3 separate regions of the Homo sapiens genome follow, and all the other regions are linked to region 2. Evidence: fine-mapped expression QTL. A gene starts in region 2. Each other region holds a variant in brackets. All regions are shown on one strand. Distances are from middle to middle. Region 1 overlaps CHN1 (chimerin 1). Region 2 holds the start of CHN1 (chimerin 1). Region 3 has its middle 31 kb from the start of CHRNA1.

What was found. PIP is the estimated chance that this variant, and not a neighbour inherited with it, causes the effect. A credible set is the group of variants that fine-mapping cannot tell apart.
Region 1: its variant is the best candidate, but not a certain one, in a credible set for the expression of CHN1 in whole blood (INTERVAL, PIP 0.80).
Region 3: its variant is the best candidate, but not a certain one, in a credible set for the expression of CHN1 in whole blood (INTERVAL, PIP 0.57).

What each region holds. Positions count from the first base shown.
Region 1 is chr2:174,832,329-174,842,364 of GRCh38, reverse strand. The region is part of intron 7 of CHN1 (chimerin 1); the gene reads left to right. Among named protein-coding and RNA genes, the nearest start is that of CHRNA1, 73 kb to the right of the region's middle. The variant A/C (reference allele first, on the strand shown) is at 3,666.
Region 2 is chr2:174,999,931-175,009,966 of GRCh38, reverse strand. CHN1 (chimerin 1) reads left to right here and starts at 4,586. Exons shown (of 13, transcript NM_001822.7): 1 at 4,586-5,073. The coding sequence starts at 5,055. RefSeq lists a silencer at 4,826-4,885 and an enhancer at 4,870-5,416.
Region 3 is chr2:174,728,008-174,738,043 of GRCh38, reverse strand. No RefSeq gene overlaps it. Among named protein-coding and RNA genes, the nearest start is that of CHRNA1, 31 kb to the left of the region's middle. RefSeq lists a silencer at 7,589-7,883 and an enhancer at 7,482-8,221. The variant C/A (reference allele first, on the strand shown) is at 5,585.

The DNA.
Region 1 (10,036 bases), 170 kb after region 2:
TAAAATTAACTATATATGAAAGAATATTTAAAACTTTATATTAACAGCAGTGAAATGTCGTATTCAGAAACAGTGTCTATCACCTCTTTCATATTATCCCCACCAACCCTCACACCACCACCTTGCCTCCCTCCATTCTTCCTTGCCCTTTCCCGATGTCTAGTAAAATGCCTGTAACTAGCAGATGCTCAAGAAGCATTTGATAAATGACTAAATGAGTACACAGTGTGACATGCGGGGGACCTTTGGTTGTTGTTACTTGAAAACCTCTTCTCATGACAGCAGGAAATTAACACAAAAATAGAGTCTTCTATTGGTCTTAAGATCTGTATTGTTACAATGTTTTCTTTTAATTAGATTTATGTGAGTTTTCAAAATGAAATAAAACCCAAGATACCATCATGTTATCTGATATTGACTAGAGAATCTGTGTACATATTTTAAATGCTCAGGAATTTGAATAGTGTTTTGAATTAATGGTATTGTAAATGAAGGTAAATGCAATATTACAAAAGGGAAATGACAATCTAGAATGCTTCATTATGCTTCTGCAATAATGTCTCTCATCATTGCCTCTTCTGTGGATATGAACAAGGAGTGTCCAACATAAACATTTTAAAGGAATAATGTGAATTATTCCTTTAAATAATTTTACTTGGAAATTTAAATAATTTTAAATAATTTCTTACTTGGAATTTCTCCAAGAAAGAAATTAAGTGGAATTATATGTATTTCTGTTGTACACATGCACACACACACACTCTTTCCCCAGTTCTCAATGTGGGCCACTTGCAAGAGAAGACAAAAATAGCGCAGATCAGTATGTAGCATAGGTTCTGTCTGCCTAAGGCAATCGGACATGTAGAGGACTGATGAAGAGAAACTAGGAAATTGGTCAGAATCATCTTTAAAGTCCCTGTAAACATTGTATTTCTGTTGCTGCCTATTATAGTACATATCTGATGCTGCAGAAGCCAAAAATGACAGCCACTGCTCTGCTTTCCACTTCTGCCAATGCTGCTGGTGAGGAGGACCACAGAACCTGTGCACTGCCCCTCAGCACGGTGGCCCTCTCAACCTCACCCTGCCTGGCCTTATGGTTTGTCATGCTGGCTGGGGAACTGGTATGACACCCCGAGTACAAGTCATTCAGATCCTTAAGGTTATCAGAAAGGTTACTACCTGCCACTAATAATCCGAAAAGAAACATTTCACAAAGTTCTTGTTGGTTTGCACATAGTTGCATATACTTCTTTGTAGCTATCTTATGGGACTAGAGAATTTAAATTGCTATACTTCAGAGAAACCCATATTATTCTCACAGACCATGGCCCTTTATTCTGGAGATGTTTTATAATCTGTCTTTATTCCCCAAGTTCCAAATTTGGCATCTCTGTATTATACTGCCTCGCTGACACAAATTACTTATCAGTATGTTTTTTGTCTCTTCCATTCAAGCTTTCTACTATATCTTTTTTAAATGTTTTAAATGAGGAAGACATGTTTTGTCTTCCTCATTCCTTTCTAGCCTCTTGTTCCATGTCCATGTGGGCCCCTGAAAAGATTGGCTCTTTCAATATATGTATGAAAAATTGCTGTTGAACATACTAACTCAATCTTTTCAAAGAAAAATCCCTTAACAGTGTCGAAACATCTTGCCCACAGTATTCTCTAACCTAAAATAAAACTCTCCAGGCTTTCCTAGCTCCGTTTCCTCCTTGCTCATCCCTCAAGTATTTATCAAGCAGCTGTTGTGTGCAGACCACTCTGTTAGACATGGGAGGAGACACAGTAATATGTAATGTACGGTCCTTGACTGCTGGATATATGCAAACTGACTGAAAAGAAAGCAAATGTCAATATAATGAGAATGATGAGAAGGTCATAGGAAGGGTTTGGGGCCAGGCACAGTGGCTCATGCCTGTAATCCCTACACTTTGGGAGGCCAAGTCAGGAGGATTGCTTGAGCCCAGGAGTTTAAGACCAGCCTGGGCAACATAGAGAGACCTTGTCTTTACAAAAAATTTAAAACATTAGCTGGGTATGATATTGTGCACCTGTGGTTTCAGCTACTTAGGAGGCTGAGGTGAGATCACTTGAGCCAGGAGATAGAGGTTGCAGTGAGCTGTGAACACACCACTGCACTCCAGCCTGGGAGACAGAGCAGGACCCCATCTCAAAAAAAAAAAAAAAAAAAAAAAAAGAATGGTTTTATGCATAAACACTGGCAAAATACCTTTAATTTTATGTGCCACATATGTATAATAATGCCATATTCCTCATGGTTCAATATTTCATATACAAATACAAATGACATCTCTGCCTGAAACAGAATGACAGTCAGAAGTGAGTATGCAGAGTAAAATTCGACAGAGGGTAGTTTAAACTTTGGAGAGAGATTTTTTTTTGTGTGTGATAAGAACATGTCACATGAGATCTACCCTCTTAAATATTTAAGTAAGGCCAGGTGCAGTGGCTTATGCCTATAATCCCAGCACTTTGAGAGGCTGAGATAGGCAGATCACTTGAGCCTAGGAGTTTGAGACCAGCTTAGGCAACATGGCAAAACTCTGTTTCTATCAAAAATACAAAACTTAGCTGGGCGTGGTGGCACATGCCTGTAGTCCTAGCTACTCAAAAGGCTGAGGTGAGAGGATCACTGGGGCCCAGGAAATCGAGGCTGCTGTGAGCTGTGATTGTGCCACTGCAATATGGCCTGGACGATAGAGCAAGACCCTATGTCAAAAAAAAAAAAAAAAATCTTTAAGTGCACAACACAGTATTGTTAAGTAAAGGCATCGTGTTGCTCACAAGTTTCTAGAAGATACTCAATCTATTATAACTGAAACTTTATATGCATTGAACAGCAGCCACTCTTCTATTCTGAGTTTGATTATTATAGATACCTCATATAAGTGGAATCATGCAATATTTGTCCTTCTGTGACTGACTTATTTCACTTAACATCATGTCCTCCAGGTTCATCTCATGGTGTCATATACGGCAGGATTTCCTTTATTAAGGCTGAATAAATATTCTATTGTATATATATACCATACTTTCTTTAAGGATATAAACGCATAGGAAAAACACGCAATTTTTAAAAGTCACCTCTTACAGTTAATAACAATGTATAAGAATACATTGAGAATAAAATCTCTCTGAGAGTAGATTTTAAGTGTTCTCACTACAAAAAATATGTGAGGTAATGCTTACATTAATTAGCTCAATTTAGCCATTTCACAATGTATTTGCATTTCAAAACATGTTGTACACAGTAAATATAATTTTTATTTATCAATTAAAAATGAAATAATTGTCACTTCTTCTAAATTTTTTTTTTTTTTTAAGACAGAGTCTCACTCTGTCGCCGAGGCTGGAGTGCAGTGGCACAATCTCAGCTCACTGCAACTTCCGCCTCCTGGGTTCAAGCTATTCTCCTGTCTCAGCCTCCCTAGTAGCTGGGATTACAGGTGCCCACCACCAAACACACACCACATTTTTGTGTTTTTAATAGAGATGGGGTTTCGCCATGTTGGTCAGGCTGGTCTTGAACTCCTGACCTCAGGTGATCTGCCCACCTCAGCCTCCCAAAGTGCTGGGATTACAGGCATGAACCACTGCACCTGGCCTGTAAAATTCTTAATATTTCAGTTTACATGTTC[A/C]TACAACAGTCCAACCTTCAGGAGTTGGTTTTTCCCCCGTTTGAGACATGTTGGTACTCTAAAGCCCCTTCTCGTAATCTCTTCTATCTTATATTCACTCACCCCTTCCAGATTTAACTGAGGATTGGGTCTTAATTCTCTTTTGCTTATTTTGTAAGTTAATAGGAGAAATACCATATGTAATATTTCATGTCTCTGTGTTTCAAGCCTTGTTTAACTGACAAAATGTGCTATCATACTTCATCTTTTTTGTGACCCACTGTGTCAACATTCCCTATAGGACAAAGTCTTATTAAGAGTGAGGTTTGGCTGGGCGCAGTGGCTCATTCCTGTAATCCCAGCACTTTGGGAGGCCGAGGTGGGTGGATCACCTGAGGTCAGGAGTTCAAGACCAGCCTGACCAACATGGAGAAACCTTGTCTCTACTAAAAATACAAAATTAGCCGGGCGTGATGGTGCATGCCTGTAATCCCAGCTACTTGGGAGGCTGAGGCAGAAGAATTGCTTAAACCTGGGAGGCGGAGGTTGCAATGAGCCAAGATCGTGCCATTGCACTCCAGCCTGGGCAACAAGAGCAAACTCCATCTCAAAAAAGAAAAAAAAAAGAGTGAGGTTTACCATGACTGTTAGTAGGACGGTTAAAGCATGTACCTAAAGAATACGTACATGTCTTATCATCTTGCTTCAATTATTGTCTATGTTGTCAAGTACTCCATATCTCAGTAAACTTAGTATCATTAGTTGGTGTTCATCATTTGTTATGTAATAGTGCATGACACAAAAATATTGTTGCCTCCATCAAATAGCCCAAAGGATAGAAAGTAGAAAAAGAGATGTGTATATACACCAAAGGAAGTGGAATATAGGTTAAAAAATAAATGAAAACGTGACAAGCAATGGTTTTTCTTTTTAAATATTTTTACTACACAAAAACTTCTGGTAGCTGAAAACCACTGTAAATTATTTTTTTGACAAGCAACATACTAATAGATTTTTTTTTCCAGTTTTCTAATCCCTCTTCTTAAATTATCTTGAGATTCTTCTGGTTACAAAATAGGAAAACTATAAAGGAAAAGGCCAGTAGCCCAACAGTTGAAGAACCACCATATCATCAGCTGCTTATTTTCTATATTTTTATGTTCTTTGGGGAGCAAAAATAGAACTGGCGTGTTTTGTAAGGTATTATCCAGACTTAAAAATTAAAAGAACACATCTATTTTTAGGTCATGGTAGTCAGAGGCTTGTTGTCACATTAGGTGATATCCTCCAGTCTTTTGTATTAGAGGTGACGTTTTGGCTATCCATGTGAATGGATTTGCCCAAATCAGGCCTAAAATATCATATTCTCTGTTTCTCTTTTTAGAACTACCTTTGTTTGGAGCTTCACCTCTTGCATGTGACACAACCCTGATCTCTGCTTGTGCTCTGCCTGGTACACATGCCCTTGTTCTTAAAGAGAAGTCCATCTCTAGGGGGTGTGCTAATTTGCTTTGATGGTTGCTGTTACAGCTCATTACTCCGCAATTGTATTACTTCAGTGTGTTTTTCTTAATCTGTTACCATGAATATATTTACTATTTGATGGAACAGTTGAGAGACTTTTACTGCAAGTGTCAGAAAACCCAGCCCACACTGGACTAAGAAAAAAGGGAATTTGTTGTGTCACATAGTAGAAAAAGTCCAGCATTAATTGAAGGTATCCTTTGACTTAGGGGCTTAAAATGCCACCAGAACCCTGTTTCCCAACTCTTTCTTCATTTTTAGGCTCCCTCTGGTGACAAGATGACTGTCAAAGTCTTCAGCTCTGTATCCTCCCAGATTCTAGTCAGCCTCAAAGACAGACTGTTTGAAAAAAGGTTCTGGGCATGGCAGTCATTGACCAATTATATCATATGCTCATCTCTGCACCAGTAGCTCCAGTCAGGAGAAGGGAATGTACTGGCTTAGATCCAGGTCTTCCCCTGGAGCTGGGGAAGAGGTCAGCTCTATACGATTCACATGGATTGGGAGCTTTTATGAAAAATAAGAACTTGTTCTGTGTACTGAAAAATAAGCAGTGCCCTCTACAAGATTAAATGTCAAATGAAATCACCTATTGCAAGATCTTAGTGAACAGCCTACTGAATATGACAGTGTTAATGTAACACTTTGCTGGGTGAGATGTGCTCATGAAACATGGATGACAAAAGAATCCTGAAGCAGTTCAGTCTGTATAAAGGGGGTTGAAAATTACTGATTAAGTTAATCTTATTTTACATGTGTAGAAACTGAAGCCTATTAAAGTCACTGGTTGGCGTTCACATGAACGAATCAGTAGAACCAATAATATAAACTAAATTTCTACTTTTGGTCATGATGGAAGAACTACATTTACCTTCCCATCTTAAACAACTAGCAAACCAGAAAAAGTATATAAAAACCACAGCCAGACATTGATCAATAGGTAGTATAGAACTGTGACAACTGAAAGAAGGAACACAAACAAAATGATTCTTAAGATCACTCTTACTGCTTGGAGGCAGTTTCCAGGCCACAGCACATGGAGGGGGAGTCCAAGCAGAGTCTTGTGGTCTACCCCAGTGAAGGACAAAGAGATTAGGGTGGGGTCGTGGGGGAGGTGCAAAGCAGCTCAAATGTATGGGGCAGAGACTGCCTGAGGAGACAGAGCTGCACACAAAAGGCATTCTGGAGATCTGCCGAGGAGCCTTCTTGAGTCTTTTACTGATGACTTATCTGCATATATGTGGGAAGAAACTATTGGGAAACCACCAGAAAGCAATAGGCTAAACAATGGCTGAAACTCACTGAAGACTCATTCTGCCCACTAGTAGAAACAGAAAGAAGTCACAACACATGGAGCATTGGTTAAGACTCTTCAAGAGGGTATCATCTTAGTACTGTGACCAAAATTAACAGTAGACTAAAGGTTGTAGTGAGGAAAGAAATGGAAGCTGTCTTTAAAAATCCAAATTGAATCTCTAGAGGTGAAAAGTATATCTGAAATGAAAAATACACTGGATTATATTAACAGCATATTAGATACCACAGAAGAAAAGATTGGTAAACCAGAAAATACAATACAAAATATCCAAGATGAAGAACAGAGAATTAAAAAAAAAAAAAAAATGAACACAACATCAGTGACCAGTGGGACAATAGCAAGCAGTCTTAACATAAGTGTAATTTGGGTCACAGAAGGAACAGTGATGGGAAACCAGGAGACAGAGCAATTATTTAAAGCTATAGTGACCAAAAATTGTATAAATTTGATGAAAAGTCACAGATCCAAAAATGCAGTGAACACTAAACACTAAACAGAAAAAAATATGGTGAAAGCAACATCAAGGCATATCATAAATTGCTGAAAACCAGTGTTAAGGAGAAAATTGTAAAAGCAGCCAGAGAGAGTGAGAAAATTTGGGGAAAGAACAGTTTTCACTGTAAAGTGATACCGAAGGCCCCTGGCTTACAATGGCTCAGCTTATGATTTTTGACCTTATGATGGTCTGAAAGCAATATTCATTCAGTACAGTCCTGGATTTAGGATTGGATTACATCTGGATAAATTCATCATAAATTGAAAATATCAAAAGTAGAAACCCCACTCTCAACTTATGATATTTTCAACTTATGGTGGGTTTATTGACATGTAACCCCATCATAAGTCAAGGAGAATCCATACTTTGCCTCAGCCTAAGAATTGAGGTTGTTCATCCCACACGTAATGTACAGAGGATGTCTCTCAGATCTAGAAATTATACATACGTTTGGTTTCTCTTAAGTTTTATTTTCACATTTCAGCTTCATAATGTGTTTATAGTTTTGTGGTTTTATAGAATCTTAAATGTGCATACTCACACTCAAGAATACAATGCACATTTGTTTAAAAGAATATAAATTATTTTTATACTACTATCTTCTCTGTTAATATCTTCGAGGATTATTTTAGTTAGGACAGATATGTCAACTTTGAGGAAACAAATTATTTTCCTTTTTCACTGGTACTCACACATCTTACAAAGTTTTTTTTAAAAGCAGTTGGGGGGATGCACATTACATAAAAATGAATAAAGAATGGCAGCAAAATTCTCATCAAAAACTATGCAAGACAATGGAGTGACATCTTCAAAGGACTGAAGGAAAAGAAATCTATTAACCTTGAATCCTATATTTAGCAAATATATCTTTCAGAGATGAAGAGAAAATATTTATTTTTTTAAACAAACAAAAGCTGAGTGAATTCATCCCTAGGAGACTGGTACTACAAGAATATTACAGTAACTTTTTAAGAAAGAAAATGATACCAGGTGGAAATTTAGAACTACACAAAGGAATAAAGAACACTAGAAGTAATAGTAAGCATGGGTAACTTTAAAAGATATTTTTCCTGACTTAGTATCTTTAAAAGATAGTTGACTCTTTAAGGCAAAAATGGTAATATATTATGTAGTTTATACAAGCAAAATGTATGACAACAGTAATGTAGAGTAGAGGATGGGGGAAGTGGAAGTATATTCATGTATAGGATTCTTGGGCATTACATAAAGTGGTATACTATTTGGAGGTAGACTGTAAGTTAAAGGTGTATATTGTAGACTGGGCATGGTGGCTCACGCCTGTAATTCCAGCACTCTGGAAGGCTGAGGCAGGAGGACAGTTTGAGCCCTGGGGTTTGAGACTAGCCTGAGGCACGTGGCAAGACTCCATCTCTATTTAGAAAAGAAAAGAGAAAGAGACAAAATTAGCTGGGTGTGGTGGCACATGCCTGTGGTTCCCACTGCGTAAGAGGCTGAGGTGAGAGGATCACTTGAGTCCAGGAGTGTGAGGCTGCAGTGAGCTATGATTGTGCCACTGCACTCCAACCTGGGTGACAGAGTGAGACCCTGTCAAAAAAAAAAAAAAAAGATGTGTATGTTCTAGACCTTAGAATAAAACTAAAATTGACATAGTTAAACTAACAGTGGAGATAAATGGAGTCATAAGAAATATGCAGTTAATTCAGAGTATAAAACATAAAAAAAGGAATAAAGGACAAATGGAATGCATAGAAAACAGGTTGATAGTTACATTAAATGAAAATGACTCAAACACACCATTAAAAGGCAGAGATTGTCAGGTTGGACAAAAAAGCAAGATCCAGTGATATGCTGTGTACAGGAAACCCACATTAAATATAAAGGGCACAGAGAGAAGTGAAAGAAAAAGCAAAATTCTCATCAGAAATTATGCAAGACAGTGGAGCGACATCTTCAAAGAACTGAAGGAAAAGAAACATTAACCTAGAATTCTATATCTAGCAAATAATATGTATATGTAGACAATAATTCAAAGAAAATTGGAGTGACTGTACTTTTTTAAACACAATTTTTGAACAAGGAATATTATTGGGAATGAAGAATGTAAAATTAATCAAGAAGATATAACAGTTTAAAATTTATATGTACCTAATAACAGGTGCAAAATACATAAAGCAGCAACTGAGGTGAGGGTGAAATAGACAGAATATACAGAAAATTAGTAAGAGTATAGAAGACTTGAAGAACAGTATCAACCAATTTGACCTAACTGATATTTATAGAGTACTCCACTCAACAACAGCAGGATACACATACTTTTCAAGTGAACTGGAAGATTCACCAAGATACATAATATTCTGGACCATAAGACAAATATAACCATGTGTCATATAACTGTTTCAGTCAACAACTGACCACAGTTATGACAGTGGTCCCATAAGAGTATAATACCTTATTTTTACCCTGTCTTTTCTATGTTTAGATACATTTAGATACACAAATACCATGGTGTTAATGTTACATATTCAGTACAGTAACATGCTGTACAGGTTTGTAGCCTAGGATCTATAGGCTAGACCATTAGGTCTAGTACATAATAGGTTTTACCATGTAGATTTTGTGTAAGTACACTCTATAATGTTCACCTAATGAAGCATTTCTCAGAGAGTGTCCCTATCATTAAGTGACACATGACTGTATCAATAAATGTAGAAGGGTTAAAGTCATACAAAGCATATCCTCCAACCACAACAGAATTAAATTTGAAATCACTAACAGATATCTGAAAAATTTCCCACATACTTATAAATTAAATAACATACTGCTAAATAACTCATGGGTTGAAGAAGAAATCACAAGATACATTAGAAAATATTTTGAACTGATTGAAAAGAAAAATAAAACATATCAAAATTCATAGAATGTGGCTAAAGTAGTACTTATCAGGAAATTTATATCATTAAATGCTTATATTTAGAAAGGGAGAAAAAAGGTCTTAAGTCAAAGAGCTAAGCTTCCATCTTAAGAAACTAGAAAAAGAAGAATCAATTAAACCAAGTACTTAAGGAAAGGCAG
Region 2 (10,036 bases):
GTCTTTGTCCTGTGAAAGTGCTATTTGTAAATCATGGAATGCCACACAAATATCAGGTAAGTTATTAATTCAGAAAGTCTGAGATAAAAAACAAGAAGGGGGGTAAAAAATAATCGGAATTAAGTGTTTAAGGAAAACGTTGTTAAAAACAAACCAAATAGTCTAGGCGCGGTGGCTCATGCCTGTAATCCCAGCACTTTGGGAGGCCAAGGCAGGTGGATCACTTGAGGTCAGGAGTTCAAGACCAGCCTGGTCAACATGGTGAAACCAATTTCTACTAAAAAATACAAAAAGTTAACCAGGTGTGGTGGCTCATGCCTGTAATCCCAGCTACTCAGGAGGCTGAGGCAGGAGAATCACTTGAACCTGGGAGGCAGAGATTGCAGTCAGCTCTGAGATTACTGCACTCCAGCCTGGGTGACACAGTGAAACTCCGTCTAAAAAAAAAAAAACAAAAAACCAAACAGACCAAATAGCTGGATACAGTGGCTCATGCCTGCAATCACAGCACTTTGGGGAGGCTGAGAGGAGTGGATTGCTTGAGCTCAGGAGTTCCAGACCAGCCTGGGCAACATGGCAAACCCTGTCTCTACTAAAAATACAAAAATTAGCCGAGTGTGGTGGCATGCACCTGTGGTTCCAGCTACTCCAGAGGCTGGGGTAGGAGGATTGCTAGAGCCCACGAACTCAAGGCTGCAGGGAGCTGAGATTGTGCCACTGCATTCCAGCCTGGGTGACAGAGTGAGACCCTGTCTCAAAACAAAAACAAATCCACTTTAAACAAATTCACACAGTGGAAACAAACACTGTAACTAGTAACATAAATATGGGATAGAGAGAATGTCACATATTGTGAATATTTAAATAATTTTAACTTTCTTAATTTTAACTTTAGCAGAAGTATACTGTGTAACATTTTTCTCTTCACTAGCAAACTTCTGCACTATTTTGGGAACTGTGCTAATAGCACTGGTATTCCTAGTGTTTAAAGCTGTGTTGACATGACAAAGTACTATAATTTTAACTTGTTATTGTGAGGCAGAAACCGCCTCATTAATTTCTGCTTCATTGAAAACTGAGGAACAAATCAATGTTTACCAATGGGAATGAAGCTAAATGGGTAACAAAAAGAAATTCAAAACACTTGTGATAAGTCATTAGTTTAAAATGTAGGAAAACCATTTTAAAGGGTTGTCTAGGTTCTGTTTAGTCAACAAAACTTAAATAAAAATGAGAAATTGTTTTAGTAAATTTGAAATGGGTTGTTCAGTGCACACTTTTAATTTTAATCCTGTTAAACCAGAAAAAGGTTGCTTTCTACATGATTAATATAACATTATTAGTACAACACATTGCAGAAGAAATAGCAGTACCACTGGTTTGACAAAATATGACTTCTTTATTACATTAGGTATTTATGAACTTTAGATATAACAGCACTTTAAATATATTGAAGATTCAAATAAAAATGTCCTCTGTTTTATCCATAAACCAGTTAATTTAAAGATTTTAAAATATCACACAATGACAGATAAACCTAAAAGGGACATTAGAGATACCTTAGTACCATCCTTTCATTTTACAAAGGAGGAAGATAAGAACTAGAAACAGTAAAACATTTGTCTAAAAATCTGACAGCTAGTTAGTAACGAATAAACAAATCTGGCTCTTCTAAGCACTTGCATGTTAAGCACAAAATGAAATCATTGAATGAAAACATAAATATTTTGAGAAGTCAATTCATTCTTTGCCCTTCTTTTATAAACAATCTAAGTCACCACCCGTAATAATCACCTCCAAGCAGTTAACGCCCTTCCTTGCATTGACTCTGTAGCTGAAAGGCTGTGGCTTTATTTTCAGCTAAGTGAGAAAAGAAGCACATGCAATAGAATAGGAATAGCTCATTGAAAAAAATACGCTATTTTAAAAGCCAATACTATTTCCAAGACAGGCACTTTGATCAAGTATAGAGAGCATTTTGTTAGAGCATCAAACCATTTGGAAGTCAGTTGAAAGGAATGGCTCGTGGAAAGCAGGATGCTTTAAAGGGAAACATAGCAACATTCACACTGTTTTGTTCCAAATTGTACCTTAAAAACAGCTGTGTGTGTGTGTGTGTACGTGGGTGTGCGAGTAGAAAGGGGAGAGGAAAAGGATCTTCACTTGAGTTTAAGCAGGGTATTTCACTAGGATTCAGTTGTATTTGGCCAAACTAGTGAGTGGAAAGCTGGTCTAGTAACCAAAGGCCGGCTGTATGATGGGAGGGTAAATCTGAGTGCAGGGCAGCTCCTTTCTCTCTGTCTCACTCCCAGGACAACCCCTCAAGGGATGGAGAGAGCTACTAGCAAGCTGAGCTGCAGCACCAAAACCTTGATGCTCTAACAGAGCTTAACAAAGAGGAGAGAAAGGCATTGTTTCTCTTTTAGCATGATGGGACACATAGTTCTGAGTAGAAGGGCATGTTAATAAAAACTCTTTGAGACAAAATGCAACTTCCCAAACTCTATGCAGAATGGCTAAGGACAAAATACTCTCGTTATTTTGCTTCTAATACTAAACAGATTTTTCTTTTGAAATTCAAACCATGCAACCTCTAAATTGATGCGGGATGTGGGTAGGGAAGGTGGTCGGTGAGAACACCAGAAATCTAAGATTTTCCCATTGGTTCTGCTACTAAATAGGTGAACACATTTGGGAAAATCTTTTTACGGGGAACTCAATTTTTTTACCTATAAATCATGGGAGTTTTGGTCTTTTCCTATTCAAAATTCAATGGTTCTATTCTGAAGGAAAATATTTTCCTTTAAATTATAAAGGCAAAAACTTTCTGAGATTACAAAAAACACTTCCAGGGGCTCACCTAAGGTCCCTGAATAGCCCATAATCCCCTTGAAATTATGTGAAAAATTTCCGGTGAATGTGTGTATGTATGCAAGCACTTTTCTAAGAGGAGGGACAGTATTTTCATTAGAGCCTCAAAAGGAAATTTGGTCCAAAAATGTTGAAGACCACTAGTTGAAACAGTAAATGGAGTCTTCGGTTTCTGATTTATTTGGCTGCAGAGCAGATTAGCAGCAATCTTTATATGGTTATAAAATCTATCCCACAAAGCTTTCTTGAGTTTCTCATTTATTTTCATGAGCTGTGTGTTTGTAATTTTTTATGAGCAGAAAGGTTGTTCAAAATCAAGAGTCCATTTTCATGAAAGATTTTAAATTCTGGGGATTTTAAAGATGTATTTTGATTAGTGGCTAAAGAGAGCCATTTTACATCACAAAATTCCAAACATATAGCATCTTAAACACTTGCCCATTCATGTTGAATCATTTTAATATTTCTTTCTTCCTGAGTTAACTGACTTGAAACAAAAGGCTTGGCTCCTCCTTCCAACCTGCTTTTCTTCTGATGCTTAAGTCTGCTTTGAAATAATGATGGTGAATTAACTGTGGTTCCATTGGAAGTACTGTAGTAATCTCCCACTTTATCAGGATTCGATCTCTAAGATACATTAAATACAAGATATTTCTATAATATTCTTAAAGAATTATTTGAAAATGGGAGAGAAGACACTAGGGAACCTGAGGAACTAAGAGGAAAGACGCCTGTAGAAAGAAAGGAGAACCAAAGAGAAGATCTACATGATCAGATACCAAAATAGTATCAAATCCCTAAGCAGAGAAACAAGAAAAAAGAAGGAATTTCTTAAACAGGGAACACATATAGCAACTAGAGAAGAATGACTTTTTGAATACATTAAACGACAACGACGAAAAACATATAACCCAGCTTTTCAAGAACATCTTTTGGCTGACAATCTCAAGGCGTTGTATGGCTCCTCATGGCAGAGACAGAGGTGAGGAGACAACATCACAGAAAGGAGGACGTTGCCAGTGATTATCAGATAAATACAAGAAGCTCAGGGGAACAATCTTTTGTGGCAAATAAGTGCCAGTCAGTGACACATGCTGATTTTTTTTTCCTTGAGACAATATCAAAGAGGTATAATGTAAAGGGAAGAAAATCAGGTGTAAGCATTGGTCTTTTAACAAATTATCTTAGGTAATCTCAGATGCTTTTTAAGCGACTCCTTTTCCTAATGTGTGTCAATTTCATCAGAACTACTAGCAGCTCCTAAGTCCAAACGGAGAGGAATGCAGCTTTCAGTGCCTCTGTTCCTACCAGAGCCCTGCAGCTTCAGGTCACCGGCTCCAGCCACAGTGAGCCTGGAGGGCGCCAGGAGAAGAAATATGTTCTCACACGCACCAGGTCCCCAGATGACCCTGCCTGGGCGCTGCGTTCACTCAGCATCCTCCTGTGACTCTTCCTCTTTCGAGTAACAGCGTTTTTCTCCTCTCTGCGCCTCCTCAAATTCCATTCAAGAAAAAACCTGGGCTTTCAGCTAAAACGCACACCGGCCCCGCTCCATCCCGCTCCGGGCGGCCGCCTCCAGGGGGGCGCTGGTGGCTCCTCGCAGCCGCGGGAATGAGGGCGCACCCTCTTACCCCCGCGCGCGCCCGTTGCCATGGGAACGCACTCGACCGGGAAGCCCGAGGGAGAGGCGGGAGGCAGCGGCGCGGCCGAGCTCGTGGGAGACGCTATCGCAAGATGGCGTCTGCGAGGCCGCGGGATGCGGAGTGAGCGCGCCCCGCCGGGGGCTGTGCGAGGCTGCTGCTGCTCTCCCCGTCGCCGCCGCCGCCGCCGCCAGTGCGGCGCCGCCTCTCCGCCAGCCACTGCGCCGCGGCCAAGCCTCCTGCCTCGCAGGTACCTCCTCCCGCGCGCACGCTCCGCGCCTGATGGCAGCGACAAGTGCCGGCTCGCGGAGAGCTAGCGGGGCTCCCTGGGCCCGGTGCGCCCGACAATAACGCGTGAATAACTTTTTCTTGCAGCGGTCCCCCGCGTCCCGGCCTGCAGCCTCCCCGGGCGCCGGCGCCCCCAGCACGCCCCATCGGGCACCCCACTCTCTCCGAGGTGTGGGTGCGGCGGGCTGATGAGGTGATCCCTAGCCCGCCTGGGAGGAGCGCCTGGACTCGCGGGCGGCGGCGAGCGCCTTTACAATGGCCCTGACCCTGTTTGGTAAGTGCAGCCGTCTCCCCGCGCCGCCGCAGGTGGGCCGCGTCCCGGGGCTCGGGGGCGGGGGCCTGGGGGGCCTGGGCGCCCGGGGAGGGGGCGCGGCGCGTGGGGTCGGGGCGGGCCGGGGCCGCAGAGTTGGGGCGCCCGGGGCGCCGGCTTGCTCCCTCGCGCCTCTCCCATTGTTTCCTCTCCCGGCAGGGCCGATGGGCGTGTGCTCCCCTGGCCAATTCTCGGCTGGGAGGCTCAGAGGTCCTGGGTGTTTTGCAAACGCACAAAGATTCTCTAAGATGCCAACTTGGGAGTGAAGTTAACTGGTTGTTTTCAAACCTGCCTTTCCCGTCGGTAAATAAATCCTTGGAAAGTTTATTTATTTTGAACGAGGTATCTGTGAGTCCCCAGCCTCCTTGGAATTGCCAAATGCATGTGTTGCTTCCTGTTGGACTATTGGGGAATTTTTTTTTTGGACTCAGTATATTCCGTTGGAAATAAGTATGATTTGTGAACTGAATATGGGTTAAAATTGAAAATGTTTGCACTAACGAATGAGAGCAGACAGAATAAAGTTGGTTACCAGAAGATAACTGTAATCTCAGGAGACTGAGTATTCATTAAGAATGAAATGTTATTTTTGTGGTGTAATTACTGCAGCACTGTTGCTTTTGGTGGTTAAGACTTCAAGCTGTTTTTTTCTCAGTCTGCAATGACAATGGGTTGGGAAAAAGGACTGAAAAGATACATTCTTTCCTTTTACAAAACGACTATGGTACATACGTACCTGACTTTAAGAAAACTCAATATGTGAACATTAGACGTTCAAAGTATTCAGCTTTTTTGAAGAAGCAAAGTACAATGATATGTAATTGATAGCTACGAGAACAGCCTAAGTAAGTTATTCACAATATCAAGTTTCCAGTTCAGTTTTAATTATGTCATTTGATCAAACACGTTAGAGGTGTTACATACCTCAAATGCTTTTTGAGGTAAATACTTCCCAGTGAATTAAGCTGCTAGAATCAAAGTGTTACTTTTATTTAACTATCTTATTTTATAAATTAAACTTAGACCCAGAGAGGTTGTTTCCCAAAGTCACATGGCTCTTTTGTGGCAAAACTGAGCCTAGAATTCACTTCACCAGGCTTCAGTCTGGGACTGTGTTTACTGTGCCCAAGTGCATTACTAGAAGTGCCATTTCTTACTTGGTGATGATCCTCCATAGGTACTTTAAAAAAGTGTCTTCTTTTTCTGAAAAATAATAAAATTCTCGCTGTTTCTCAGTACCTTGTATCTAAGCATTATTTAATAGCAGCATTTTCCTTAAATGTGGACCTTTTTGGTACAAACATTTTCTTTCCTAAAGAGATATTTGGCATTTTCAAGGTGTGGTTTCAGAAGTAAGGTTTACAAGTCAACTTTTCAAATACTCGCATTCCTGACGAATAAAAAAGATAAATTGGGGTGAAAAATGCTCTTTTAAAAGGATTTCTAAATTCTAAATCTTTAACCACTGTGGTGAAGATGAGGAAGGGAAAAGCATGGAATGTGGCCTATAGAAGAAAGTATAAGAAATCACTCCCAGCCTTCAAAATGAATAATGTATCTTTAAAATTTTAAAGTCTACTTATGGGAAAATAGAATTCACTTCCCAAAATCCAGTTTGTTACAGTGTGAACGTTTCTGTGTTATAAAACAAAGCACTCTTGAGTGCAGAGGCTATTTGTTAAGTAGTGATAGAGCAGCAGCTGTTTTTAAAAGTGGTTGTACACCACTCATCAGTCATCTGGGATGTCTATTAAAAATGTAGATTCTTTTGCCCAAAGACATGGGGGAAGGGGATTTTAAAGTGACTCCCTTTGTGATTCTTATGCTCACTCAAGTTTGAGAACTGTTGTATTCAAGATAAATGCTAGGAGATTGGGTCAAACTCGCCCAATACAAAATAGCTTTTTGTGTATGTTGAGAGATGTACCTAAGGGTTAGAAGAAATGGATTTTATTTTAGATTTTACTACCTTTAACTAGTTGGTCTTAGTCAGAAGTGCCTCATGTCCCTTCATATTTACTCTTAATGACCAACTTAGAACAGAAGAGCAATGGAGCAATAAAGTTCTGTGAGATGGTAGTGAAAAGAGTTAGAGGCAGGGACCTAACCAGATCAACAGGATTTGTCAGAGCTCAGCAGAGTTTATACCTGAGGCTCCCCAGAGTAACGACTGCCAGGGCCCTATCTTTTGTATCTTGGTTGATTAGTTAGTGCAGTCCAGCAGTAGAGTCTAGACTAGTTATTTGCTTTGTGTTTTACATTTTCTTTCCATTCAGGCTTTTTATAAATTTAAGAAATGTTCTTTTTATAGGGAGTTGGTGACTTAGTTTTAAAAAGTGGAGCCTCTAACATTACCTGATTTTGTATTTGCATACATTTAATTTTTTTCACCTGTTAAGTATATTATAGGAACTCGAATACTTGTTAAATTAAGCTGAATAGTTAAGACTGTTTTATCTCTCATCCTCACTGTTAATCACCTTTGCTGCTTAACATATTTTTAATGCATATTAGTTTTATTTTGGGATAGAAGAACCAGACCCCAATCTTGAAAGATTTTACAGTCTCATTTGGGAATTGAAAATGTGCATTTTTGAAAGCTTAAGAATTTGCACCCGTTTTTCTTCTCCTTTCAAATGAACTCACATCTCATTATCAGCTTCGATATAGTTTTTAAATCCCCCAATTTCAAAAATTATCCAAATGTATTACAGACTCTGCTCGCTCACCTTGCTCATTTTTTCAGCAAACATCTGTCACAGCGTACAAGAGACATGGTCCTCTAGTGGCACTTCAGAGTCTTTTCTAGAACTATAGCGAATGCACCTAATTCACTAATTACCTAATTCCGTATAGTGAGTGGCACTTAACTATTAACTAATTCCGTATAGGCTTTGTGAGAACTTCCTTAGTAGAGAGCACATGTTTTCTAGTAATTACTGGGATAAAAGGAAAGTCTCAGATCCTTGAATATGGGAATTTGTGGCTGGTGTACCTGACAAAATGTCCTGATTGGCCACACCAATAGAGCCTTAGTTGGCAGAGCTGGGTGAATAAGCATTCTGCCAGCTCTTGCCTTGGCAGGAATCTCTGTCATTTATAGCTTAATGGGGCTGTGGTTTATAGCCCAGACCAACTGATGCGATTGGGAACTCAGTTACCGTCGGCTGGGCTGGCTGAACCTTGAATAATGGTCCTCTATCTGGGTAGAGTCACCTCTGGCGTTGCTGCTCACCCTCCTTGCCCCTTATTCTTGTTACCATTTAGTCACCATCTTACTACCATAGATCACTTCTAATAATGCTTATGATTTTGCTATAATTTTGTACCATCTTTCCTCAGACCCTTCTGCCATGGAAACCTTTTCATTATCTCACTTTATTCAGCATCTGTCACTAACCTGACACACCTACCTATGGACATCTTTTGGAGCAATTAAATAGCAATGGCATATTCTTTGTGATGTAGTTAGGAAATTTTCTGATTTCCCATAGGAATGTCCTGAAATTAAAATGTATTTTTTAAAAGACAAGTCAATTGAAGATTTTCATATTTGACTGAAAGCTAATTTTATAGGAAGTTCCCACTTGACTATACTCTCTGCTGACATTTTTATTTTTCAGTTGTCCAAAGAATACAAGAGGCTGGCCCAGTGGTGTGAGCTCATCTGCCTTTTTCAGAATATATTCTTTTCAGCTGTCATTTAAATCATCATCCTTATTTAAATTTTTGTCCATGTTCCTTCTTGTACTGGTGTCAAAACTTAATATTTTAGTCAGACATGGTGGCAATGTGCCTGTAGTCCCTGCTACTCAGGAGGTTGAGGCAAGAGAACTGCTTGAGTTCAGAAGTTCAAGACTGTAGTTGCACTATGATTGTGCCTGTGAATAGCCACTGCACTCCAGTCTGGACAACACAGCAAGACCCTGTCTCTAAAAGAGTAAAAATAAGAAAACCCAGCTGGGCATGGTGGCTCACATCTGTAATGGGTGGCCCATGCCTCCTGGCACTTTGGGGGGCCTAGGCTGGAGGATCACTTGAGCTCAGGAGTTTGAGACCAGCCTGAACAACACAGGGAGATACCATCTCTACAGAAAATAATAATAATAATAAAGCCTGGGTGCAGTGGTTCATGCCTGTAATACCAGCATTTTGGGAGGCCGAGGTGGGTGGATCATTTGAGGTCAGGAGTTCGAGACCAGCCTGGCCAACATGGTGAATCCCCACCTTTACTAAAAATACAAATATTAGCCAAGTGTGGTGGCAGGTGTCTGTAGTCCCAGCTACTTGGGAGGGTGACACAGGAGAATCCCATGAACCCAGGAGGTAGAGGTTACAGTGAGCTGAGATTGTGTCACTGCACTCCAGCCTGGGAGACAGAGCGAGATTTTGTCTCAAAACAAACAAACAAAAAAAATCAGGCCAGGTGTGGTGGATCATGCCTGTAATCTCAGTACTTTGAGAGGCTAAGGTGGATGATCACTTGAGGTCGGGAGTTCAAGACCATGGTTAACATAGCAAAACCATGTCTCTACTAAAAATACAAAAATTAGCCTGGCATGGTGGCACATGCTTGTAGTCCCAGCTACTCTGGAGGCTGAAGCAGGAGAATCGCTTGAACCCCAGGAGGTAGAGGTTGCAGTGAGCTGAGATCACACCACTGCACTCTAGCCTGGGCAACAGAGTGAGACTCCATCTCAAAAAAAAAAAAAAAAAAAAATTAGCCAGGTGTGGTGATGCATGCCTGTGGTTCTAATATTTTAGCTTTAAAGTTTGTCTTTTAATGTGTGGAGAGCTGGTACTATGTAAGAACAATAAAATAATTATAGTTGTTATAACTCTGATAGTCACCATCTGTGTACACTGTAGAGGAATGTTGGCACTGCAGTCTTTTGAGTCACATCTGTCTCTGCAGGTAACCATCCTA
Region 3 (10,036 bases), 270 kb after region 2:
TTTCCAACACAAAATAATTTTAATGGTGATAGCATATCCAATAAAAGCATCATGATTAAAATCTAATAAAGGTTCTAAATGCTTGGCTATAGCATACCTGTCAAGAGTGTGGCTACGTTGGGTAGGCTTCTCTACTCACAGTGCTAATGCGAACCTCTCAGCTGCAGTCAGCACATCCCTTTCATTGCTTTTGCTTCTGTTTCTGAGATGCCTCTCCCTACTCCCACCTTTAACCTCCAAGACTTGTTTCAGCTCATCCAAATTCATAAACTCATGCTGAATCCCTCACCTTCACAGGTCTAAGTTTCTCTCTTGGGCCAGCAAAGCACTGGTCTTATTTTGTCTTGTATTTTAGTGACTTATTTGTCTAATACACAAAAACTCCCTGTCCTCACAGTTGCATTAACCCATAAGCTGTTTTCTATGGCATGGATTTTCTCCTAATTTCTGCAGAGCACCCATCACTCAGTGGACGCAAAGTCAATGTTCATTAAATTGAAGAGACAACAGTCTCTGCCCAAGCACAAGGGAATTGGTCAACCAGTAATTGAGCCCCTGTTGTTCACCAGCCCATTCTATGGGTAGATGTTCCAGATATAAAGAAAATAGAAGAGTGCTAGGCTCTGTTCTCTGCTGCGATCTAATTGGGGTGGCGTAAACATAGACAAGGGACATGCTACACTGAGAGGCAATCCTCCTTAGATAGGAATGCTTTTGCTTGATTTAACATTGTCATTAACTTCTGGAAGCCCCCTTCATCTCCTTTATTTATGCTAGTCCGCCTTTTTTCTGAGCCTACTTCCTATTTTTCAAATCTGCCTTCTCCTCGTCATTCCCATGGCTACCTGTACTGGCCTACATTGTCACTGCTTCATATCTGAACCCCTGCAGTAGTGTCAGTGTCAATCTCTCCTATCCTGAACATTGACATTCACCAAAATCCCCCAACATCTGGGGAAACAGCAAAGCCCATTCCAGTTTGAAGCTCTTAGGTAATCGTGTGACTCCACATCATTCCTTGTGGGAGAGAATCACTGCCTGATACCAGTTCTTCCTGGTTGCATTCAAGGTCTTCTCTGCTCTGATCCCACATTTTCTGGCCAACTTCAGCTCCTTATGTTCAAATCATTTGTGTCATTTTATTAAATAAATCAGCTGACAATTGTTTGCCTGCATGACTATTAACTGGGGAAGGACAGTAATTCCTTCCCCAGGATAATAAGGCACCATTATCTGCCTTTTCATTACAAAACAAATCTAAAACCAGGTGCCCTTTTCTTTTCCAGTGTCAAGTGACTTATTTGTCCCAGAAGTTTTTAGGGTGTTGCCAAGCTGATGGAGCAAAGAAACCATACAGCTCCCCTGGCACAAAATGGAGGGATGACAAGGAAAGCAAACCAAATGTAATCATAAAATTGGTTGGGCTTCTGTTCTCCCTTTAGTGGGAAACACTTAAGGTTTCTTGGTCTAGGCCGGGGACAGTGGCTCATGCCTGTAATCCTAGCACTTTGGGAGGCTGAGGCAGACGGGTCACGAGGTCAACAGATCAAGACCATCCTGGCCAACATGATGAAACCCCGCTCTACTAAAAATACAAAAATTAGCTGGGCATGACGGTGCGCACCTGTAGTCCCAGCTACTTGGGAGGCTGGGGCAGGAGAATCACTTGAACCTGGGAGGTGAAGGTTGCAGTGAGCCAAGATCACGCCACTGCACTCCAGCCTGGTGACAGAGTGAGAATCCGTCTCAAAAAAAAAGCTTTCTTGGTCTTGGTCTAAATCTTTTTTTCCCTGAAGACATGGCACCCTTTGTCATTTGTAGCTGGGCATGTGTTTGACATGGAAGGCTGCCTTGGGTCTAGAGAGGTGATTCAATTCACAGCAGATGGTGCTTCTCTTATATTGGCTTAGTGGCTTTCTAAGAAAATGAACATAATGCCTTACTTTATTCTTGATATTCTTAAACTTTATTTCTTTTTCTTTTCTTTCTTTTTTTTTGAGACGGAGTTTCGCTCTTGTTGCTCAGGCTAGAGTGCAACAGCATGATCTCAGCTCACTGCAACCTCCACCTCCTGGGTTCAAACGATTCTCCTGCCTCAGCCTCCCAAGTAGCAGGGGTTACAGGCATGTGCCACCACACCCGGCTAACTTTGTATTTTTAGTAGAGACGGGGTTTCCCCATGCTGGTCAGGCTGGTATTGAACTCCCGACCTCAGGTGATCTACCCGCCTCAGCCTCCCAAAGTGCCGGGATTACAGGCATAAGCCACTGTGCCTGGTCACTCTTAAACGTTATTTCTTTCTCAAACTTTAAAGTGCCCCAACCCTAATCTGGATACTTCAAAGGATTCTAGCTCAGATATGGGTTTGATTGTTAAATGCCCAAATGAAACTTCAGAAAATAACCAATTCATACCAAGATAAATTATAGTGTAATTTTTATTTTAGTTCAGAAAATCTAAGTGAAAGGTAGGGATATTCATCTTCCTACTTGAAAGAGTTAACTCAGTTCTAAAGTTGTATGATTACCTAGCCTAGTGAAAAGATTAAAATTTGGTGATAAAGCTGTACCTAGTGGAACTGAGGACTTATTTGGGTGGGGCGATTAGGCCATTTTCTAGACTGAACACATTTACCTGATATGGGGCTCTCTGTGAGCTCAGCCAGTTGATGGACCCTTGGCTGGGGTAGCCGAAGGAGGCTTACCTGAGGCAGTGATGCTTGAACTGAACTCTGAAAAATGAGTTGAGGTTAACAGGGCAAAGATGAGGAAGAGAATTGTCTTTGTTCAAGTGACTTGAGAGTATAAGGGTCCTGATATAGTAAAATGTACAGAACTTGCCTCCAAAGACCAAAGAAAGTCAGATAACTGGAATCAGAGTGAGGGGAAGGGTGGCATAGCCAACATGTGTCTGCAGAGATGCACAGGGCCTGGATTACCCAGAACCTTTGGATTAAAAAATTTAATCTCCAAAGAATGTACAAACAGCCAATAAGCACATGAAAAGATGCTCAATATCATTTCAGGGAAATACAAATCAAAACCACAGTGAGACACCACCGTCGCCCACTAAGATGGCTACAGTAAAAAAGAAGGATCGTAACAAGTGTCAACAAGAATGTGGAGAAATGAGAACCCTCATATGTTCCTGCAGGGAATGTGAAAGGGCAGTGCCACACTGGAAAAGAGTTTGGCAGTCCACAAACAGTTCAACAGAGTTACCATTTGACCTGGCCATTCCACTCCTATGTACATACCCAGGAGAAATGAAAACAAACACCTGTGTGTGGATGCTCAGAGCAGCATTACTCGTAATAGCCAAAAAAATGGAAATGAGCCAAAAGTCTAAGTGACAGACAGAGAAACAAAATGTGGTGTACCCATATGTACTAGTTTGCTAGGGCTGCTGTAACAAAGTGTACAACAACCTAAACAACAGAAATGTGTTGTCTCACAGCCCTGGAGGCTGGAAGTCTGAGGTGAGGTCAAGGCGTCACGGTGGTTGGTTCCTCTGTTCCAGCCCTCTTTCTTTGGCTTATAAATCTCTGTCTTTGTGTTCGAACAGCTGTCTCCCTGTATGCACCACTGTGTTGAAATTTTCCCTCTCTATAAGGACACCAGTTACTGGATTAGGACCTGCCCTACTTACCTCATTTTAGCATGATTATCTTGAAAGATCCGGTCATCACATAAGGCCACATTTTGAGGTGCTGGAGTTTAGGACATCAACATATGAATTTCTTGGGGACAAAATTCAACTCATAACACTGTACAGTGAAATATTATTCAGCCATGAAAACGAATGAAGTGTTGATCCATGCTACAACATGGCTGAACTCTGAAAATATTATCCTAAGTGAAAAAAGGCAGACACGAAAGGCCACATATTGTGTAATTCCCTTTATGTAGGATGTCCAGAATAGGCAAATATATCAAAGTGGCAAGGAGACTATTGGTTATCTAGGCTTGGGAATGTTGTTGGTGATAGCTAAAGGATACAGAAATGTGAAGGGTGGGGGTGAAAATGTTCTGAAGTTGATTTTGTGATGGATGCTAAAAACCATTGAGTTGTATATTTTAAAATGTATGGTACGTGAATTATATCTCAATAAAACTGTTAAAGGGGGAAAAGTTATATCAGAAAAAACTTCCAGAGCTTATTGATCAGAAAAAAAAAAACCTACATGTTTTCTTTAAAAATTAGAGCTGAGATATGTCCAGGCCCCAGGGCCCTCCTGTCTCAGATTGGCTGGCGCTGCAGGCTTTCACACACTTGATTTCTTCCATGGTGAGGTTTGTACAGAGTGCAACATATATTTGGACAGACGAGTAGCAAATTTGTTTCTCTAATTTGTCTTCCTTACATAGTTTCTGAGAGAAGGGTTCATTGGTAATCTTGTTGCCAGTTGGAAAAATTTTTATCCTTATCTGTCTGGAAAATTAAGTCTATTTTATCTTTTTCCTCAAGGTAATTTTGTCCAGGTTTGATAGCAGGTCACCTTTCTGGGGATTCCATGCTCCTAGTGACAGAAGGGGACCCAACAACTCTCCCTGCCCCGAGGATGTGTAAAGTGACACCAGACTTACTCTTCCGCTTTAATGTTAAATAAAAAAGAAGCTGAGCTATGATTTTGTAAGATACAACCAAAATGGAGACTAGAAGGAGATTGTGCAAGGATGGTTCTGCCCTAAACTGTCTGAGAAAGGGAGAGAAATGCTTCCACCAGCAGGCACAGCACTTGTGGGAATAAACGGGAAGGTTCGTGCTTGTGCTGAGTGCGGTCTGGGGAGTAATAGACATTTTCACGAGAGGCTGCAGGATGGGGAGAGACACTTCAGGCCAGAGTTGGGCAGAGCTTATCCTGGCTTAACTGGGGGCAGGAGGTGTCCAGAAGCATAGGGAGGTTTTTGTCAACTAAGGAACAGTGCTGATGCGGCAAGAACGGGAACAGGGCAGGGCATGGAACCCAGAGGGAAGACGGGGGTGATCCCCGACTTCAGGTGGAGTGACAGTGGGCAGGCAGTCGCAGTCCTGTCAAGGCCAAGGGTATTTGGAGGGGCCTGTGGTTCTGTAGTCTCCCACTGTCTACCTAGGAGGTGGCTGTAACCTAGCCCTGGGGGTAGAGAAAGGAACTTTAGGGGGGCTTCTCCATAGAGGTCAGGAGAGGAAGGGGCTTCAGGAGAAGATAAGCAGCAGCCTTGGCCCTTGGGGTTGGCCTGCCCTCATCTTCCCTCTGTTCACTTTCACATCTTCATGTTTGTAATGCAAAGTTCATTTGGAAACTTGTAGCCTCTTTTAGTTGGACTAAAGGCATCAAAGGAAGGGGGTATAGCTTTTGTTCACATTTAGGCTGCCATTCTACAGGACAGCTGGGCGTGAACGGAGTACTACCTGCAATAAGAAAGCGGGAGAGGAGAAATTCGGTAGGGGGTGGTTTGCACAGCAGCTCCCCCCAGACAAAGATTCTGCTGCCAGACGCAACCTTCCTATCATCAAGGACGGAAAACTGAGGCTGGAGAAATTCTTTACAAACAAACCTTGTTATACCATCTTCCCGAACACATGTCTACCCAATTAGCTCCCT[C/A]GCCCAAGTCCCTTTGTCTTTCCTCATTTTCACAACTTACTATGCTTTGTCCAATTCAGTACATAAGTAACAGATTCTAACGGCTTCTTTGGGATTTCATTTCCGTATGAGGGCTCCTGTGCCACATAAAACTTGTATTAAGTGAATTTGTATGTTTTTCTTCTGTTGATCTATCTTATATCAATTTAATTCTTGAGTCCAGCCAGGACCCCAAGGGGATGGAGGTGCAGTTCTGCCTCCCCTACAGTTTCTGGTGACAAGGGAGGGACCCTAAAAGGCAGGGATGCCCACTAGCTCTGCAGCTTGGAGATGGGACTGGGAAGACTGACAAAAGATGGTAGAAAGTAGGAAATCTCACCCAGTCAGCTCTTAGATCTCTGTCTGTAGTGGCCATTCGAGAAAGGGAGGTAAACATTGTTCGTCGTCTTTTCCTTTCCAATTCAGATTGGTAGGAGAAAACATTTATAAGAATTAATTTTTCAAATTGTGACTCTTGTGAATTTGGTTCTGAGTACCCATTGGTTATAGATCACAGCCTCCCAGGAATGGTCCTTGTTTTCCTTGTCTCTGTCTTTTGTGTAGTTTGTCATAAGGAGGAAAATCATAAGATTTGGCCTTCATCTTGTTTTATGTCTTGAGAGCTTAGCTCGGGAACCAGTGAGGATATTCTCTGTGGTCTTTGCCAGCAGAAGTCGCACGTTGTCAGGCTTGCTTCAGGCGGCTAGCCAACTGGCTAGGAGTCCAGAACCAAAGTATCTCTTTGTCCCACTGTGCCAGCTCTTAGGGGAGTTTGTCTTAATTGTCTCAACTTCATTGCCTTGTTTTTAAAAAGGTCTGGCCGTTCTTAGGATATTCGGAGCAATTTGGATGCCAAGGCGGACAGTGTGCTTTTGCACCCTCTCTTGGAGGCACTTCTTGAGCCCATGGTTAAGTGATAAAAGGCTTCTTGGTTTTAAGCCATGAAAAGGCTTGTTGGTTTTGAGTCACAATTGAAATAGGTATACTTCTAAAAATTTGGACTTTTGTATCTAAAAGGGTTTTATTGTTGTTGTTGTTTTTTTTTTTTTTTTTTTTTTTTTTGAGAGACGGAATCTCGCTCTGTTGCCCAGGCTGGAGTAGAGTGGCACTATCTTGGCTTACTGCAACCTCCACCTCCCGGGTTCAAGCGATTCTCCTGCCTCAGTGTCCCAAGTAGCTGGGACTACAGGCATGCGCCACCAAGCCCAGCTAATTTTTGTATTTTTTAGTAGAGACGGGGTTTCACTATATGTTGTTCCAGGCTGGTCTGGAACTCCTGATCTCGGGCGATCCACCCGCCTTGGCCTCCCAAAGTGCTGGGACTACAGGCGTGAGCCACCGCGCCCAGCCAGTTGTTTGTTTTTAAAGAGTGCTCTCATCCTAAGCTGTCCTATTGGGTACCTATGGGAAAATCAAATTAAACGACACAAAATAATTTAATGGCTACCCTTAGCGATTCCCTTAGCAAGATTAAAGAACACAATCAGACTTAAAACAAAAATTCAATCCACACCGCTATAAATTTTCCCTGGGTGGTGAGACTGCAAAAGGCACTTAAGTCACCAAAGCCCGGGACTTGGCAGGAGGCCCCAGCGTGGAGGCTGCAGCTCATGCTGACCAGGAAGGCCCGGAGCATCTCACGGTCATGAAAGGGCCTCCGCCCTCACGCAGGAGGTCCCCGGAGGCAGGTCTGGAACTCCGTCCAGTCCTCAGAGTGGCAGTGCACTAGCGACCCTGACTACGAGCTCCAGGAACAGGCGAAACCTGCCGCACTCAGCTCCTAGGGGCCCCAATTCTGACAAAGGGAGCCTGCAGCACTCTGTGTAGGATCCTTAAAGTCTTTGATGGGCTTAGAGCTAGAACCAACCAACCAGAGAGGAGAAAGAAAACGGATTCAAAGACAGGAAATACAATCGGCTAAAAGCAGCGTTTAATAGCCGCGTCCTGGCTAGGGAAGGGAAGGCACCAATGCGAGGCCTGCGTGGCTGAGTGGCGTCACCTTGCCCTTCCCGTGTAATGGGACCAAGGAAGAAGCACAGACCTACTGCCCGGGGCTCCCGCCCTCCACAGCCCCTCCCCTCCGGGTTTCCCAGCGCGGGAGCTATGGGGCAAGTGCACTGCCTCGCCGCTCCACACTCGCTTGAACGCGTAAGAAATCCTCGTCAGACTCAGCTCCGGGCTGGGAGGGCTTGCGGAGGCAGCGGCGCAGCAAGCTGGCCCCAGCCCGGGTGGCAGTTCGCACCCACGCACGTCCAGCCGGGGTCACCACCTGGAAGCGCTGCATCCCATCACCTGCGTCGGGTCCTTCCAGTGCCCACCGATTCCACTGCCCAGTTACGGGGAGGATTGTACGGGGGGTGGGGAGGGACACACAGCACCTCACGCACGCCGAGGGCACCAGGACCCTCTAGCAGCGACGCGCCTCAAGTCGCTGCAGAAGCTGCAGAAGGTACATCTAGCCCTGTCTGCATGGGCTCCTTCGGCGGAAGGGAACATCTCACACTCCAACCCGAGCAAATCTAGCGCTCCTGCCAACACCGCCCGCCGCAACAGCAACGAATTCATCCATCCCAGATTCGCCACCAGGGTCCGACGGTTCTGTCCCCGCGGGCCTTACCACTTGGCTTGCGGTGTTGACGCTGGACTGTCCGAAGGCTTTTGGCAAAGTTGCTTCCCAAGCATGTTTACTGTGGAAGGGTGAACAGCCACCAAAGACACCACCTGCAACACAAGTACATAGGAGGTTAAGAGCCACGTGTCTTTTCTGAATTAAGGGTAAAAGTGAGAGTTTCAGGAAGATGATGCTTATAATTAGAAACTCTTAACTTTCCCCCACTTTTACCTTTTTAGATCCATGGTTCAATTGCAAATACCTTCATTAAGCTTAATTGTCATTTTTTTTTAAAGGGAGGACAGGGGTTGCATTGGCAGGACTCACTTGTTCCTTCCCATAGGTCTGGTTCATTCCTCCCTGGGCACTTCCTGGCTGGGACTCGGGTGTCCCCGGCATATCACCGACTGCTCTGAGCCCCTCTGAGGCTGTCTACTAGGGAGAGTGCTGGTGGAACTGTGTGATCCAGAAATAACGCTCTTAAAAGTCTATGTTTTTATGATAATTACAGAATAGAATTTTAACATTGGAATTAACTTTTACTCCAACATTTCTCTATATAGTTGCAAAACTAGTTCAGAAATCTTAATGATCCACTTTTCCTTAAGAAGAATTGCATTTCTGTTTCCAGAAAGAATGCCTTGTGAAGAAGCTGCCCCCTCTTTAAATACACAGATCACAAAGCAAGTGGGAAAACAGATCTACATAGATACACAAATATTTATTCCTTCCACAAATGGAAGGATGCTGAGTGTTCTCCGTACCCGGCGCCATTCTTGGTCCTTGGGATATAACGATAAATCAAAATCAGGAAATATTTTATTTTACATAATAGATAATAAACTGAAGTAGAAATGATAAAATTTTTTAAATGGCATTAGAGGGCAGAGAGGAAATAAACAAGGAAATCTGTAAAATAGGTTGTGGCACCTTGGATAATGAGGCAGGAGGCAGGGTGGTTGGGAAAAGCCCTGGGAGGAGAACTGTGAGTGGAACCCGGATGGAGTCTAGCAGCAGGCACAGACCGGGAGGCCAGTGAAGCTGGGAAATGCCCGACACCCTTGGGTGGAGAACAAGGTAGACTGAAGAACAAGACAGATTTTCAGGTCATTACAACACCAGGAAAGGAGAAATCCCTGTTCCTGTCAAGCTTCCGAACCACTCTGATCTCTCTACACAAGACCAGCCCTGGCCGGGCGCGGTGCCTCACACCTGTAATCCTAGCACTTTGGGAGGCCAAGGCAGGTGGATAACCTGAGGTCAGGAGTTCGAGACCGGCCTGGCTAACATGGTGAAACCCTGTCTCTACTAAAAATACAAAAATTAGCCGGGTGTGGTGGCAGGCGCCTGTAATTCCAGCTACTTTCGGAGGCTGAGGCAGGAGAATCGCTTGAACCCAAGAGGTGGAGGTTGCAGTGAGCCGAGATGGCGCCATTGCATTCCAGCCTGGGTAACAAGAGCGAAACTCCATCTCAAAACACACACACGCACGCACACACACACCACCACCACCACCAACAAACCAGCCTTTTCCAGGAACACCCACCTGTTGCTGCGGGGGAGGATGGTTCTCAAGGCTTCCTCCCACAAAGGTTAACACCAGGACAACATTTTCCTTCATTTCCACCAATTCCATCATAATAACTTCCAAATAATAAGACATTCAAATACATTATCTTCAATTTAGCTCAATCTGAACTTTCATATTGGGGCCCTTTGCAACCCATGCATTTTAAAGAAGTCTATTGCTTTTTATGCATTTTTTAAGCAATAGGCTTCTTTAAAATGCATTAAATAATGAATTTAGCTGCTACACAGGAACA